Homo sapiens: one gene and its partners. The gene in region 1 interacts genetically with each later gene. Each region holds a gene or a part of one and is shown on either strand. Other genes may lie near its edges.

Region 1 (5,519 bases):
CTCGGCTCTGGTTAGCAAGAGCATGCTGGGGGCTGAGGCAGTACTCTGTCCATCTGTATGCAGGGCCCACCAGCTGCTGCCTGTATGAACGTCCAGCCTCAGAGGCCTGGCTGGCCAAGGCCACTTGCCCCACCTGCTTCCGGCTTTGGGGCCCCTGCCCACAGCTGTCACAGAGCCATCATCTGTCTTTCCATCCTTGGCTCCCACTCCTGCCCCACTTGTTCTCCAGCAGGGGGTTCTAGACCATGGCAGCTCTCACTGGTCTCTCCTGTGTTCTGCAAAGGTCCCCTGGGCCCCCTTCAGGACTGGGCCCTGTGCTGGGAGCTGGCTTGGCAAAGGATCTGACCCAGTCCCTGCTCAGGGGTCCCAGCCTAGTGGGGGAAGACTGAACAGGTAACAAGTGGCCCATGGTATGGGGGATTCTGAGGTCACAGGGCCCCAGGCCCCTGCAGGTGGGCAGAGGACTGCAGAAAGATCCTGGACAATGAGGGCCAGCCCTGGAGGGTACTTGGAAGCAGGAAAGTCTTTGTCCTCCCACATCCCTCACTCCTGCTGGCATCGGCTGGGCATTCGTCCTTTTCACATTGGCTAACCCCCTAGAGTTCTGCTGTCCAACAGAGCAGCCACTAGCCACACACGTAGCTGCTGACATTAAAGGTTTACTTTTGCCACACACGTGCTAGTGTCCCCTGAACAGCTAACATAGCCACACTATGGCCCTTCTCATTTTTTTGAGATGAGGCCTCACTATGTTGCCCAGGCTACACTTTAACTCCTGGGCTCAAGCCATCCTCCTGCCTCGGCCTCCCAGTAGCTGGGGTTATAGGCCTGTGGCACTTCATCAGCCATGGCTGCTTTTCCCTTGTGTCAAATCTTCAAGTTATTCAAACACAATTTGGGTAGTGATGTGGAACCATTTTGCAGATGAAATTAAAGACCCTCATCAGGTAACTTTAGGGGAGATTATCCTGGGTAATCCCAGAAGGCCCGATCCAATCAGCTGTAAGTCTTAAGCACAGGGCTGAGGCTCCCTCCAAGTACCCACTGGGAACAGCAGCTTCAACCTGAGCCCTGAGTCCCAGCCAGCCCCCACAATCACCTATGCCCATTCTTCAGAATACATTGGATGCATGTGCACACACCGTCTCCCCCTAGTTTTCTCTGCTTGAACCCCAATAAGATGAATGTTAAGGACAAGACCAGAAAATGGTTATCAAAATTCAAGACTAAGAGGGGGCCAGACACCTGTGCACACCTCCCAGAACACTAAAGCCGACCCTCCCCAAGGTAAGGTTTGGAACCAGGGCCCATCATGCCATTGACTGTGGGTGTCTAGGCCTCAGGGCCCTCATCTGAAAAATGAGCATGGCAGGTGCCTGGCAGGGACTGACACCCAGTGCCAGTAAGAGGCAGTGAAAACCTTCAACAGCCAGTCCTATCACTGCCCAAGCCACTCAACTGGGAAGGCTGGTTTCAAAAACTGAGTCTCCAGCCAGGACACCCCAAGCCCCAATGAATTCTTGACATCTGCAGCCTGAGGAAGTGGTCTGCAGAGCCACGTGCCAGTGCAAGACACTGGTAGAAGAGTGAGCCCAGCAACAAATTGGGAAGGCTAACCACTCTCAGCCCACGCACCAAGAAAAACCTCTTTACCATGTCCCCGGCCAGGGACGGCTAGCACTTGGCTTCCTGCAGCCAACCCTCCCTATGTCCAGGCAGACTCACCTTGTAGAATTTCCTGAGGTTTTCTTTCTGAGTCTGGTTAATAACTGTGAGAACACGGGCAATGGATTTCCGGACGACTCGGCTACAAAACAGAGATGTCAGTGAAGATAGGGAAGACACATAGCACTACCCAAGACTCAGGACTCACACATAGGGCAGCAATAGCTGCAGCCTCCCCCATCAACCCATCCATATTCACTCAGGAGGAAGGCGTTCTGGGAGTGAGGTCTGAGGAGGGAAGAGAGGGGCATGGGAGAGACAGCAGAGGCTTTATGAGGAAGTGCAGGCTGGATAAATGAGGCAGATCAGAAAAAGACCTTCAATCCCAGAACACGAATTTATCCTGAGGGCTAAGACCCAACCAATGCCAATTTCAATGAGCTGATGGGAAGGAATCATGCCACAAACCAGGCAATCAGGCTAGCTTAGGGAACTGCAGGAGAGAGAAACAAGACATTTGCAAAGTGGAGTCACTACAAGCCAGGAGACTGAAGCAAACAACGAGCCAGGGAGAAGTTATTTGTAGTCATGTCAGGATGAGGGAGTCACCTAGTAGACAGCTGGTCAACATGGTTTTTGAGGATTCAGTGTGCAACTGTGCTTGTCCAATCCTCCCACCCCTGCCTCTACTAAGGTTGTTTGGGGGCAAAGAGGGCAACCACCATTTTTTTTTTTTGGAGACAGGGTCTCACCTGTCAACCAGACTGAAGAGCAGTGGCCCCATCATAGCCTCCCAACTCCTGGGCTCAAGTGATCCTCCTGCCTCAGCCTCCAGAGTAGCTGGGACTACAGGCCTGTACCACCACACCCATCTAATTTTTTTTTGAGAAGTGGACTTTGTACCCAGGTTGATGAACTCCAAACCCATGTTCCTTTCACAAGTCTCCCGCACTCTTAGCCATGTAAAATAACTTACGCTGCCACTCCAGGGTGCAAGCCACCCACCTGCCAAGGGGGTTAAAAACTCAAGTGTTGGTGGGAAGCGGAAGGAAGGGGTCCGGGTAGGCTTTGAAGGCAGCATTAAGATGGGTCTCCGGGGATGCATTCCAGGCACAAGGACCGCAAGGTCAAGGCAGGTAAGAGGCTAAGCACACAACGGGTCTCCCATGCGCGCCAGGATGCACGGAGTGGGCATCTAAGCGGCCAGCTCCTTAAGCCAACTTTGAAATCCTCCGACGATCCCGATGCACACGTGCTCCCCACCCACGAGGGCTGTGATCCGGCCGCCTCACTTACATCTTAGAGAGCTTGGAGGCCGCACCGCCTGTCACTTTGGCGACGCGCAGCTGGGACAGCTCCACCTTCAGGTCGTCCAGCTGTTTCAGCAGCTCCTCCTTCTTCTTCCCGCGAAGATCTCGAGCCTTGATCTTGGCCTGCGCGCAAGAGAGAGTGTGCCTCAGCCAGGCCGCGGGGCCATATCCCCTTCACCTGCGTGGCCAGCCCCCAAAGGCGCGCGACTCGCCATCGACTACGAGTGCGCCGGAGCCCCAACCAGGGCTCAGGACAGTCTCCCTCGCCGGCCGTGCCTTGGGCAGAGTAACCCAGGCCCGGGCCGCGCGCCTCTCCCGGCGCCAAGCGAAGAGGCGGGTTGTGGTGGCGCCAGACCATTCTGCGCGGCGCCCCACAGGCCTAGGTGGCAGATAGAATCCGCGGGCTCAGCCCGCACCGCCTTCCCCAACCCCCGCGCCTCACAGCGCTCGGATGGCGCCCGATTCCGCAGCTCTCACCATTGCTGCACAAGCCGCCAACGCCGCCGCCCGCTCCGAGGGAAAGAGGAAGTAGGCGGGGCTGACCTCCGCAACTACTGCCGGGTGGCGGCGGGCGCGGCCAATGGCGCCGCAGCGGGGGAGCCCCGGCTCCGCCTCATCTCCCCCGCCCCCGAGGAACGCCGTGGTACTGCCCGCCCCGCCTGGTAGGGCCGGAGCCCCGCCTTGTAGTGCTCGCCTCATTCACGGCACCCCTGATAGCGAGGTCGGCGTCACGGTGTAGGCGCGCAGTTGGGGAAACCGAGGCCCAACGTGGGCGGCAGCTACCAGAGATGGCACACGGAGGACTCAAATTCGTCCATTCAGTCATTCGTTCATTCATTCCTTCGGGAAACCTTGCAGATCTCCCAATCTGGGCAACTCTGAGCTGGGCGCCAGTAGTCTGGGGGTGCTGACGGGAGGAGGGGCCAGAGTTTTCAAAGACGATTAACCGAGGCTCACGTCGCGGAGGAATTTAAAGCGCGAGATGGACGGGAGGGGCGGGCTCAGGCAGTTATAATCCAACTCCATAAAGGTTCTGGGGAGGCAGTATATGGAACTGCAAAGAGCATTTACACCTTTTTTTTTTTTTTTTTTTTTGAGACAGAGCTTCATTCTGTCGCCCAGGGTGCCAGGCTGGAGTGCAGTGTCGCGATCTCGGCTTACTGCAACCTCCGCCTCCCGGGTTCAGCGATTCTCCTGCCCCAGCCTCCCGAGTAGCTGAGTAGCTGGGATTACAGGCATGCACCACCACGCCTGGCTAATTTTTTGTATTTTTAGTAGAGACGGGGTTTCGCCATGTTGCCCAGGCTGATCTTGAACTCCTCAGCTCAGGTGATCCCCTCGCCTCGGCCTCCCAAAGTGCTGGGATTACAGGCGTGAGCCACCACGCCTGGCCCCAGCCTTTATTTATTTTTTTTATTTTTTAATTTTTTTTTTCAGACAGGGTCTCGCTCTGTCACCCTGGCTGGAAGGCATGGCGCGCTCTCCGCCCACCAAAACCTCCGCTTCCCGGGTTCAAGCAGCCCTCCCACCTCAGTCTCCCGAGTAGCTGAAACTACAGGCACAAGCCACCAGGCCTGGCTAATTTGTTTATTTTTTGTAGAGCTGTTGCCCAGGGTGGTCTCCTGGGCTCAAGCAATCCGCCCTCCTCGGCCTCCCAGAGTGCCTAGGATTACAGGGGTTAGCCACCTCGCCTGGCCATACAGCCTTTTTTATTTTTATTTTATTTTTTATATATTTTTTGAGATGGAGTCTGGCTCTGTCGCCTAGGCTGGAGTGCAGTGGCGCGATCTCGGCTCACTGCAACCTCCACCTCCCGGGTTCAAGAGATTCTCCTGCCTTGGCCTCCCCAGTAACTGGGACTACAGGTGTGTGCCACTACACCCAGCTAAATTTTTGTATTTTTAGTAGAGACAAGGTTTAGCCAGGCTGGTCTCAAACCCCTGACCTCAAGTGATCCACCCGCCTCAGCCTCCCAAAATACTGGGATTACAGGTGTGAGCCACTGCGCCCGGCTAGTACAGCCTTTTTTAAAGTGAACCTGACCAGGTTTCAAATTCTTGCTCTGCTGCCAAGGTAGTAGTTGAGACTCTTGGGAAATCTCTTCCCCTTTCTTGAGTCTCAGTTTGCTCACATGTGAAATGAGGCATTTATGAGAATTAGAGGAGATATCTGTAAAGCTGTTAACCCGAAATCTGACGCATAACAATGGCTCAAAATATCATTGGTGTTCATGTTCCCAGAGGAAGGAACACTTCAGTAGAGCCCGGAAAGTGAAACGGGAATTCACAAGGCAGGGCATGTTTAGGCTTTCTGATTAATGTCTGCCAACCAGTAGGCATTAATCAGCACTCCAGTGCCACTCCCTTGCCCTTAATAAAGACATGCCACCTCTTAGAGTTATGGTTGAAGCCAGATTGTCCTCTTGTTACTACCAGCTGTAACCACCCACAAGGAGACTTCTCCCATCTCCTATGAGTAGCAACCTCTGTGCAATCCTTTCCTTAGCCCCAAACAGGCTGAAATAAAATGATGCATTTATGTGTC
Region 2 (3,572 bases), on another chromosome or scaffold:
ATTATAGGAATACTTACACACCAGGCTGTAACTTAGTGTTGGTTTTGAAAATACGGAGTTAGAGACAACATTGTTATTCCCAGAGATAAAAAATTTGAAGTGGAATTTTACAAACCTTGGCTGGCATGGATAGGGGAGAGAAAAATTTGGAAAATTACTTTTAATTACTTCTACAGATTACCTATTTATTTATTTACTTACTTATTTAGAGGCAAGGCCTGGCTCTAACACCCAGGCTAGAGTGCAGTGGTGTGATCTCAGCTCACTGCAACCTCCGCCTCCTGGGCTCAAGCCATCCTCTGACCTCAGCCTCCTGAGTATCTGGGACTACAGGTGTGCACCTGTAGTGACTAATTTTTGTATTTTTGTCTAATTTTTGTAGAGACAGGGTTTCATCATGTTGCTTAGGCTGGCCTTGAACTTGTGAACTCAAGTGATCTGCCTGCCTGGGCATCCCAAAGTGCCCAGCCTCATTACCTTTTAATTAATTAATTAATTAATTAATTAATTTGAGACGGAGTCTTGCTCTGTCGCCTAGGTTGGAGTGCAGTGGTGCGATCTCGGCTCACTGCATCCTCTGCCTCTTGGGTTCAAGCAATTCTCTGACTCAGCCTCCTGAGTAGCTGGGATTCCAGGCACCCACCACCACACCTGGCTAATTTTTATATTTTTAGTAGAGATGGGGTTTCACCATCTTGGCCAGGCTGATCCTGAACTCCTGACCTCGTGATCCACCCGCCTCGGCCTCCCAAAGTGCTGGGATTACAGGCGTGAGCCACCATGCCCGGCCCAGATTACCTTTTATGAAATATTTTAACATGCAGAAGAGAATAGGACAAAATATAATGAACACTAACCCACTGCTCAGCTTTATCAGTTCTTCATTTTCTGCCGTATTTTTTCCCACCTTTTTATTTATTTTGAAAACGAAACCTCAGACACAAAGTTACCTTATTTATGAATGTCATGGTAATAATTTGTTTGCTCATAAATATTTGGGTATGTTATATTTGGTATTTTAGCACATAGTTTATTAAGAAATTTCTGAGTTTTTAGTTCTCTGAATTGCATAATAAGCTGCTGAGTTTTATGGAATCTGACGGCTTAATTTTATGGATCACATGGTGTATGTGTAAATGTGCTGCAGTTTGCAGTGTGTTAACAAAGCCCATTAAGCTGTTTGGACTTTATATCTATAGTTTCCAGCAGACAGAAAACAATGCCTGATTTGCATATAAACATTTAATTGTACTGCCTATAAGAAGTTCAGTAATATACTCACCTTAGGATTAATTAACTACAAACAGCTGCCTAGCCCCAGGAGATTTTGGGCTGGGTAATTTTGTTACTAAATTTTAATAAGAACCTAGTCATGATTTACATAGATTTCATACCAACACTATTTCAGTACTTTATGAACCTTTGTAATTGGAAAACTCTGATGCTAATCAGCAGGTACATAAAATCAATAGTTAAAATTCAGTAGCTGAAATTAGTTCCAGAATAAGTGTTATCCAAATGAGAAACTAGTTGCTGAAACTTCAGGATGGAAAAGTTGTTTAGATGGAAAATAAGAGAGATGCCTGATAAGGGGGAAAAAGCAAGTTGCACAATATGTGTAGTGTGCAGTTTTTATAAAACAGCACCCCTTTCCTGTTTTTTAGTTGTGTATGAGGTAGAGAAAAGTATAAAATGATGCTCTAAATTGGAAAATTTGGTAGGGGTGGGCTGGGGTTGGAAATGGGAGGGGTGAAGGGCCAGGTAAAATAGTTTCCTAGGGTGTTTGTTAATGATGCAGAATCCTGGGCTTCACAGCCTGAGTTGGAGTTTCAGAGTTAGTGTATCCAAGACCTAAGGTTCTACCTTTGTAACAGGTGCACCAGGTCATTTCTTTGTAGGTGGTCCTTATACTAGACTAATGCTGTAGAGGAGATTGCAGACTATTTCTCCTGATTCATCCATTTGTTTCTTACCTAAATCCTCATGGAAGTAGCATTTGTGGTCCTTTTACAAAAACCTATTTAGGTAAAAGTGATAAATGCACCTGTGGTTTAAAAAAAAAGCCTGAAGCTGGGCGTGGTGGTGGGCATCTATAATCCCAACTATTTGGGAGGCTGAGGCAGGAGAATGGCTTGAACCTGGGAGGCGGAGGTTGCAGTGAGCCGAGATCCAGCCACTGCACTCCAGCCTGGGCAACAAGAGCAAAACTCCGCCTCAAAAAAAGAAAAGAAAAGAAGATGCCCGAAGGGGGTGGGAGTGGGGCAAATGTAGATTAAATTTTTCAAAATATGAAACTACAAACAGAAACAAAAGTAGAGATCATAGTAAAAAGAACCACCCTGCTCATGTGAGGATATTTCTGGCTGCCTGGGCTGCTATAATGGTTTGGGGACAAAGTAACATCTGTGCATGTAGTGGTGCTGTGTAACACAACACACTATAATAATTTTGAGATCCGATCACAACTGGGGCTGCTAAACTCAGCATTAAAACTATTCTATCATTTTGAGTTTCTTTCTTTCTGTTTGTTTCTGAGACAGTCTCTCTCTCATCCAGGCTGGAGTGCAGTGGCAGCAATCGTGGCTTACTGCAGCCTTGACCTCCTGGGCTCAAACAGTCCTCCCACCTGAGCCCCCTAAGTGGCAGGGGACTATAGGTTTGCCACCATACCTGGCTAATTTTAGTATTTTTTGTAGAGATAGGGTTTTGCCATGTCGCCCAGGCTGGTTTTGAACTCCTGGGCTCAAGTGATCCGCCCACCTCAGCCTTCCAAAGTGTTTGGATGACATGCGTGAGCTACCGCGTCTGCCTCCAGTTTGTGAGACGTGCTCCTGTTCCTTTCTTATGTGGAAATGTGACCCAGCCGTGCCTTAGACTAGATAAGGACATTTTGTTATCCTGCACATCTATCTTGAGGAACTATAGAGGGCTTTCTCCCTTAGCTGGGGGGGTGGGAGGTTTTGCAAATACAGGATGCTATTTGAATCTTTATCTTTTGATTCATGCAGCTAGCAATTGAGCTTTTTTATTTTTTATTTGATTTATTTATCTATTTATTTTTTGAGACGGAGTTTCGCTCTTGTCGCCCAGGCTGGAGTGCAATGGCGTGATCTCGACTTACTGCAACCTCCACCTTCCGGGTTCATGTGATTCTCCTGCCTCAGCCTCCCGAGTAGCTGGGATTACAGGCGCCTGCCACCATGCCCGGCTAATTTTTGTATTTTTAGTAGAGACGGGGTTTTAGCACATTGGCCAGGCTGGTCTTGAACTCCTGACCTCAGGTGATCTGCCCACCTCGGCCTCCCGAAGTGCTGGGATTGCAGGTGTGAGCCACTGCGCCCGGCCTAATTTTTATTCATTTATTTATTTATTTGAGATGAGTTTTGCTCTTTGCCCAGGCTAAAGTGCAGTGGCACGTGATCTCGGCTCACTGCAGCCTTGGCCTCCCGGGTTCAAGCAGTTCTGCCTCAGCCTCCTGAGTAGCTGGGACTAGAGGCGTGCGCCATTACACCTGGCTAACTTTGTATTTTTACTGGAGAGGAGGTTTCACCATCTTGGCTAGGCTGGTCTCG
Region 3 (4,261 bases), on another chromosome or scaffold:
ATTAGAGAAAGGGTATGAGGTACTTCAAGTAGAATACCTTTCCAGAATTTATCAGTATTTTCTAACTAACTGTTGAAATGTGGAATATTCTTATTGTGTTAGAATCTGGGCTTTTGTAAAGCCAGAAGTTCTTTAAGTATGTGCCACTGAAGTGTTTAGAGACTGAATACTTTTTTTGAATTGCAACATTATCCCAATGTATATGTATTGAAAAGCGAACTGCTCACGGTACTAAAAATTCTCACAAATTCTACACTGGACTTTTTTAGAGTTGAGGTTTACTTGGGTCCTCAGATATATTTCACTAATCTACTGTGCATGAGAACATTTCTTTAGAGAAGCGCTGCCCAATACAGTAGCCACTAGCTACATACATGGGGCTAGTGAAAGCAATCAAAATAAACTTTCAAGTAATTAAAATTAAAAAATTCAGTTCCTCAATTGCAGGAGCCACAGTTCAAATGCCCAGTAGCTACATGTGGGTAGTGAATATCACACTGGACAGCGCTGATACAGCGTATGTCCAGCACTGCAAAAAGTTCTATTTACATAGTACTGCTTTACAATACAAGCCATGATTTTGTGATCCAAAACCAAGGTTAATAGCCATTACTCTTTTTTGAGAGAGAGAGAGTCTCCTCTATCGCTCAGGCTGGAGTGCAGTGAGCTGAGATCGTGGCACGATCTCAGCTCACTGCAACCTGGGCCTCCCGGGTTCAAGCAATTCTGGAGGCTCAGCCTCCTGAGTAGCTGGGATTAGAGGTGCGCGCCACACCAGGTTGGTTTTTTTTGTATTTTTTTGAGAGGCGGAGTTTCACCATGTTGGCCAGGAACTCCTGGCCTCAAGTGATCCACTGACCTCGGCCTCCCCAGTGTTGGGATTACAGGTGTGAGCCACCAACCCCTGCCAATAGCCACTGCTTTAAAAGCATCTTCAGCAATAAGAACTGTTATTCCAGCAATAACACTTAAGTCTGAACTCCTGGCTTACACTCTTGCTTCTTCCCCTCACTCCCCATTCTGTGAGAAACTACCATTTGATCAGATCCCCTCATTCCCATACTTAAGACCCTTCAATGGTTTCCCAACCAGCTTAGGATAAAATGCAAATCCCTTTTCAAGGAAACAAGGCCCTACGTATCCCGGCCCTTGTATGGCTCCTCCTCTGAACTTACCATTCTTCCTTTCTTTGGTAAGCTTCAGCCCTACAACCTGTTGTTGTTGTTGTTGTTTTAAAAAAAAAACAGGTCAAAATCATTCCTTCCTCAGGGTCTTTGTACTAGTTAGTCCCTGAGCCTGGCATTTCCCCCTAAGTAAGAGGTCGGGGGAAACAGCCCAGGCTCAGGGGCTTCTCTCACTAAGCACTGAGCTAAGAGTTCTTCCCTAAACGTCTAAGTGTTCTGTCTATTCCTGATCCTTCTTTTACAGACATTTTTACCTCCTGTCATCCTCTACTATAGTGCAGTTTCTTTCATCATTATTTGGAATTCTCCTTTTATTTAATCATTATTTCTGCCTTAGAAGGACATAAACTCTACGACAAATGGGACTTTTGTCTTTCACTGCAGTTCCTTCAGTACCTATTTATTGAAAGAAATAGCTCAGTGTTCTGTAAAAAACTACTAGCACTGGAATGACAAATAATGTTTTGTGATACACGAGTTTTCCAAAACTGTATTAGTGAAAAAAACCCAAATTGGAAGCTATTATCTCAGCCTGATTTTTTCAAGGGAATCAGCCCATATCATTTTCAAAAGATTATTCCACCAACATTTACCTTGAACCCTGACATTTACTTACTATACCGACATTATTTGAAAAGTGCATCCTACAAACATGAACCTAGTTCTATTAAACTGTTAATGCTCCCCGTACCTCGCATAAAACCTTAAATTCAACCACACTGATCTATTTCTTGAATTAACAAAATCTGGAGGACACACAGAGGAATGCAATTTGAATAGCACAAGAGACAAATTTATCAATAGTGCAGTAAGATATTTTTTAAAACTATGCTACCGAACTAACGTTCAAGAAAAGGCCATTAAACAAAAGTGTTATCTGCACCCCTCTATCACTTATCCTGCAGATTACACAGAACTCAAAGACACCACCTCTTGGTCCAATCTCCATAATTTAAAGACGAAGGAAACAAAACCCAAGAAAGTTACATTTTAGATTAAGCCAGCTAACATAAGTTGGGACCGGAACTCATTTGGCTACAACGCATGGCTTCTGTCAACTAAGCTGAAAGCCGTATGTTTCTCACTGGGAAGCAAGCAACCAAGACCCGGCCCTTTTTCCCACTCTCTTCTCTGGATCGGCTAGTTCTCGTTCTTCCCCATCCTACAACTCGCGAGCTATGTGATAATCGACGTCGCAGTTCTCAAGACAATTTCATCTACGTTATTCAATTTCACCCTCACAACCTCCTTTAAGGGTGACGGGCCTTAGCCCCATTTACGGATGGAGGCAAAACGCACGCGCGGCTTCACATCCGTCCACCTTCAAGGTGTACAATGTCGATCGTGCCGCCGATCCCTCGGCCTTCTCCCGGTCGCGGAAGAAGAGAAGTGCCCGCAGGCTCCGGTGGCCGAGCCCTTCCAAAATCACCTCCCTTTCTGGAATCTTCTCTTCCCCCGGCCGCTGAGCCAGGGCAGCACGCTCAGCCCGTTAGTAGGCCCTCCTACTTCGCCGCGGCCGCCGCAGCCCTATGCTGACGCTCCCACCTCATTCCTTTCCTTCAGCCCTTACTTTCGCTCCCTCCTTGAGCATCTGGGCAAAGCCCGGAGCCTTGGGAACGTGAAGCGCCATGGCCAGCCTGCAGGAAGCAGTTCACGCGACCGCTCGGAAGACCGCGGAGGAAGCGAGGAGCACGCACAGCCTTCTGGGAAAGCAGCGTGGGGCCGCCTCACGCTCTTCCTGGCTCTCCAATTAGCCCACCCTTTCCCTGCCGCCAGGTCTGAAGCATCGCGAGAAGAGCAACCTCTGTGGCCAGAACCAAGCTGACGATCCCCGATCGGGTCGATCGATAGGGCGGGCCCAGGGAGCCCCTCGGGTTTCTGGCTCACGCACGCGCAGACAGCCCAGGCCGTGAGAGGTTGCTCCAGTCTGTGCTCTCTGACCGTAGTCAGTAGTCACGGCGTTAGATTTTTGCGGTTTTTGATCTGGAAGCCACACATCCTTAGCTTAATTTCCACGTATCTTCCAGACCCAGCCACCAACGTCAGGGCAGGTGTGCTTTTTTTTTCCCGAGGCAGAGCATCTGCCCCATCCCCCAAAATTGTCTCTAGGCGTCCGCTCTGTGTTGGGCACCATAGGAAGCGCTGGGAATGCGCACGATAATTAAAGTCGTCACTAAGAGTAATGTAGTACACATCAAGTGCTCAAGTGTGCCATATTCTGTGTGATCTGCTTTACATGCAGTATCTCTGTTAATGGTCAGTCTTAAAAATTAATGAATTGTCGGTTAAAATACCATTTAGTTTTCCTTCCATAAAATGGAGACGATACCATTAAAAATTAAAAATTAAATGGTACTGTCTCTATTTTGTAGAAGGGAAACTGAAGTTCACAAACTGTAAATAATTTTCCCAAGATCACAGAGCTAGTAAATATTAAAGCTAGAATTCCTATCTAGATCAGACTTATTGCAAAATGCCGGTTCTTAACCACTATCTATATTCCTCTTTTCTACTTCTTCCTGGGAATATAAATCCCTTTTACTCTTTTAAGATCAGATATAAATACATATTTATTTATCTGATTTATATATATAATATACACATTTTATATAAATATATCTGATTTATATATGAATTTATAGATAAATATAAATCCCTTTGGCTTGGTGGCATGCACCTGTAGTCTCAGCTGCTTGGGAGGCTAAGGTTGGAGGATCTGCTTGAGCCTGGGAGGTTGAGGCAGCAGTGAGCTGAGATCATGCCACTGCACTCCAGCCTGGGCAAGAGTGAGGCCCTGTCTCAAAAAAAAAAAAAAATTGCAAAAATGTAAATGCCACTGATATGGTTTGGATTTTTGCAAAAATGTAAATGCCACTGATATGTTTGAATTGCCTGCCCAAATATGATGTGGAATTATAATCCCCAGCTGTTCTTGTGATAGTGAGTGACTTCTCATAAGACCTGGTTGTTTAAAAGTGTGTGGCACCTCCCCACTCTGTCTCTTCCTCCTCCTCCAGCCTTGTAGGATGTGTCTGCTTCCCCTTCACCTTCCACCTTGATTGTCAGCTTCCTGAGGC
Region 4 (3,572 bases), on another chromosome or scaffold:
ACTTCTATATACATTTCCAGGATGGAAAGTTGGAGTGACAGCTCTTCAGCAGGTTAGTATTTTTCTGTTAAGTCAAAGAGGAACAAAGTTAATAGGAAAATCCTTCAGTTTCAGGAATCAATCATAATTTTAGACGTAAAGACGAAACAATATATAGCTTAGTTTACCTTTAAAATTGTTAGCCTGAGGAAATAGTGTTTTGGAAATGTAAGTTAAAACAAGTAATAATGCCTTTGCCAATAACACTTATTGGAGTCCTTTGTGCTTATAGTTTGACTTAAATCTGTGGTTGCTATGGATCCTTGTTTCTAATCATTTTGCAAGTATATGTAGTCCATTGTCTTGTGTAGACTGGAAATGAGTGTTCAGCAATGCAAGCGGTATTGTAAGTCATGTAGAGAAATTTGTCAAGATGTTGAGATTTATGGTTTGAAGTAATTGGAGCCAAAATCCTAATGTTTGATTCGATGATGGACTATTTAAGAAATAACTGCTTTTTTTTAATGAATCTGCAAAATATGTATAAATAAATGAATGCATGTCTACAGCGAATCTTGTGTTTATATTGGCCACATATGTAGCCACTATACCCTTATCTTTTTCAGTATCCATTGTCTATACTTGCCCAATTTATATGTATTCCTTATCTTCTCTTGCTGTCATCAGCCTAGCTCCACTTTTGCCTATCCAGAAGACTCCATAAGTATCAGAGGATTAGGACCCTTGAGGACAAGGGATTATATCTGTTTTAGTATCTCCAATTTCTACACAGGGTCTCATGCATAGTAGACACTTGATGACAAATTAATAAAACGTGTAGCCTGATTCCATTCTATAATGATATTGGACATTGATCTTTGCTAAAATAGAGAAATTCATAATAGAGCCTGTATGTAAGACTTGTATTATAGACCATTATAACCATAGAATATTAGAACTGGAACAGACTAATTGTAAAACTTTTTTTGCCTTTTCACATGTTTTGTAGGTTTTTCCTACTTTCTTGGATAAGCAATTCTTCACTTCCTTTGTAATTGGTTACATGTTGCCACACATAGCGCAAGCCTTTATGTTTTCTAGTTGTCTCCTTTTTCTGTTTCCATCCAGTCCAGTGATCTGTAGTGATTTTATACATAGCTTTCTTTTTCTGTTGTGGTTGTTTTCTTTCCAAAATCTTACCAGCTAGGTTTTGGGAATGAGGATGGGATGTTGACTGGCAGAATTGAAGCTGGGAAGTAATTTGGAAAAATCATTACTGAATACTTCTATGCTGAATAAAAAAGTATGCTTGAATGGTAATACTTGCTGAGTTTTTCTGCCATCTTTTAGAAGATACTTCATTATTTCTTTTGATAACACCTAATAATGATGCGTATCATCAGGATTATTAAAGCTATTTTGCTTAAGAAAGTAAAAGTTTGAATAATTTAATTTTTAGGCACCAGCCGTGGATGTTGTTGCTATTGGTCTTATGTCAGGTCAAGTTATCATTCACAACATTAAATTTAATGAAACATTAATGAAGTTTCGTCAAGACTGGGGACCCATTACTTCAATTTCATTTCGCACAGGTAACTTTTAACATACTTATTGATAGGAGTTAAGAACACTTAAAATTCATTACTTTAAAAGTCAATTTTTTTTGTCTTCTGGTAGCTTAATCTAATAGAAGTGAATGAATACTGGAGTAAAAGGCAAAGAAATATGAATAGATTATTGGTATATAGTTTTTTTCTAACTTTATGGATTAAAAGGGAAGAGAGAAGAATTCTTGTTTATTTTGGGGGATCTAGAAGTATTTTTCTTAATGTATTTTATTTTAATAACAGATGGTCATCCAGTAATGGCAGCTGGAAGCCCATGTGGCCATATTGGACTCTGGGATCTAGAAGACAAAAAATTAATCAACCAAATGAGAAATGCACACTCTACAGCAATTGCCGGACTGACATTTCTCCATAGAGAGCCACTTCTTGTCACAAATGGCGCTGACAATGCTCTTAGGGTATTATGATTATTGTTAACATCTTCCTGGCTCATCTAACTTACCCTTTGGGTTATTACAAGCTTGTTTTAATGTATCAGCTTTCAACCTAGAAGATGAAAGGAATATGGAATGAGATATTGGTATAGATGAAACAAAAAGCACAGCAGGTGACATGATTGCAGTGAAGCGGGAAAGAATTACAGTTTATTTCTCCCCCAATACCCACTCCCTCCCTTGTAGCTCCAGAGTCAGTGGCTTAGCAAGCACTACTCAATACCAGTTGATTTATGTAGGGGGTGATTTGACTGCTTGCAGATCAGATGGAACATTGTAGAAGAACTGACGTTTTTATTTCTTGGCAGATATGGATATTTGATGGTCCTACAGGTGAAGGCCGACTTTTGAGATTCAGAATGGGTCATAGTGCTCCTCTTACCAATATCAGATATTATGGACAGAATGGACAGCAGATTCTAAGTGCAAGTGAGCTTCTGCTTCATACTATTAGTTTATTTCAGCAAGTATTGAGATGTGGGTGCCCAGTATGAGGTTTGATATTTACACATACTTAGATTCACATATCTCTTTGAGTGACTTAGAAGTCTGGGTAAAACTAAGAGTCCTTTTTGTCTACTTGAGAAGCACTATAGATGTTATTATCTATGCTTAATGTGTCCTTCTATTTACTAATCCTCAGAGACAGAATGGTTAGATTCTAAAAATTCTGTTAGTCTGCTGAAAATTATTAGTACCTCATTTTCATTTTATCCTTTGTTCTTACTAAATGGCATTCTATAAAAAGTTGAATATTTTAATGAAGTAGTTGCAATCTGGTTTTCCCTTTAAAGTGTCCCAAACTGTAACTTCAAGATTTTCAAATTGAATTTTATAAAATTTGTGATTCACATAGTCCCTTGTTTTAATGAAGCTTGATTAGGGATTTTCTGTGTATATCAACAGGTCAAGATGGAACTCTTCAGTCATTTTCCACGGTACATGAAAAATTCAATAAGAGCTTGGGACATGGTAGGTCCTCTACAAGACAAAATAAGCTGGTCACGAAAGAAACATTTCAACATTCTATGAAACAACTGGAGGAAGTTTCATCAATGCATTTTATTTTTTCTTGGATGAACTAGATAAACATGTATGGAAGAGGTAGTAAGATTCCTAGCATCAAAGTTGCTATAGAAGTGATTGAGGTTCTGCTATAAGGTTATTGAAAAAAGTTAGACATCTTGGGTGGTAAAAACATACTGCTGCCACCCAAAAGATGTTCATGGCCTCACTTGAGCTATCTGTAGAGTGCACAGTTTTTAAAATGGAAGGTAGCTTAGAGAAAGCATCAAAGTAAGTGGCATCCAATATTTTTGCTTTAAAGCAATCATTTATTCTCTTTCCCTTTTCATGGTTTCCAGCCTTTGAAAGATTTTGTTTATTAAACAACAAAATCTTACTTGGTTTTATGATTACTAATTTTTAAGTTACTATCTTATACTGTTCATGCATGTATATAAATTTTAAGATTATTTTTAACAATATCTAAAATAACTTTTCTTAGAATTAAAAAATAACAGTGGTAATA

The links.
Region 2: changes in RPL35 (region 1) and SF3B1 together harm fitness less than expected from each alone (positive genetic interaction), as found in Homo sapiens cells (one large-scale study listed by BioGRID).
Region 3: changes in RPL35 (region 1) and CCT8 together harm fitness less than expected from each alone (positive genetic interaction), as found in Homo sapiens cells (one large-scale study listed by BioGRID).
Region 4: changes in RPL35 (region 1) and WDR36 together harm fitness less than expected from each alone (positive genetic interaction), as found in Homo sapiens cells (one large-scale study listed by BioGRID).

What each region holds. Positions count from the first base shown.
Region 1 is NC_000009.12:124,858,458-124,863,976, forward strand, and holds the start of RPL35 (large ribosomal subunit protein uL29), read right to left. Parts: upstream 3,501-5,519; 5' UTR 3,456-3,500; coding exon 3,453-3,455; intron 3,099-3,452; coding exon 2,962-3,098; intron 1,808-2,961; coding exon 1,726-1,807; intron 1-1,725.
Region 2 is NC_000002.12:197,424,957-197,428,528, reverse strand, and holds part of SF3B1 (splicing factor 3B subunit 1), read left to right. Parts: intron 1-3,572. UniProt on the Homo sapiens protein: Component of the 17S U2 SnRNP complex of the spliceosome, a large ribonucleoprotein complex that removes introns from transcribed pre-mRNAs.
Region 3 is NC_000021.9:29,070,777-29,075,037, forward strand, and holds the start of CCT8 (T-complex protein 1 subunit theta), read right to left. Parts: upstream 2,873-4,261; 5' UTR 2,815-2,872; coding exon 2,755-2,814; exon of another isoform or gene 1,179-2,754; coding exon of another isoform or gene 1,176-1,178; intron 1-1,175. UniProt on the Homo sapiens protein: Component of the chaperonin-containing T-complex (TRiC), a molecular chaperone complex that assists the folding of actin, tubulin and other proteins upon ATP hydrolysis.
Region 4 is NC_000005.10:111,102,348-111,105,919, forward strand, and holds part of WDR36 (WD repeat-containing protein 36), read left to right. Parts: coding exon 1-52; intron 53-1,438; coding exon 1,439-1,571; intron 1,572-1,829; coding exon 1,830-2,005; intron 2,006-2,349; coding exon 2,350-2,470; intron 2,471-2,947; coding exon 2,948-3,013; intron 3,014-3,572. UniProt on the Homo sapiens protein: Part of the small subunit (SSU) processome, first precursor of the small eukaryotic ribosomal subunit.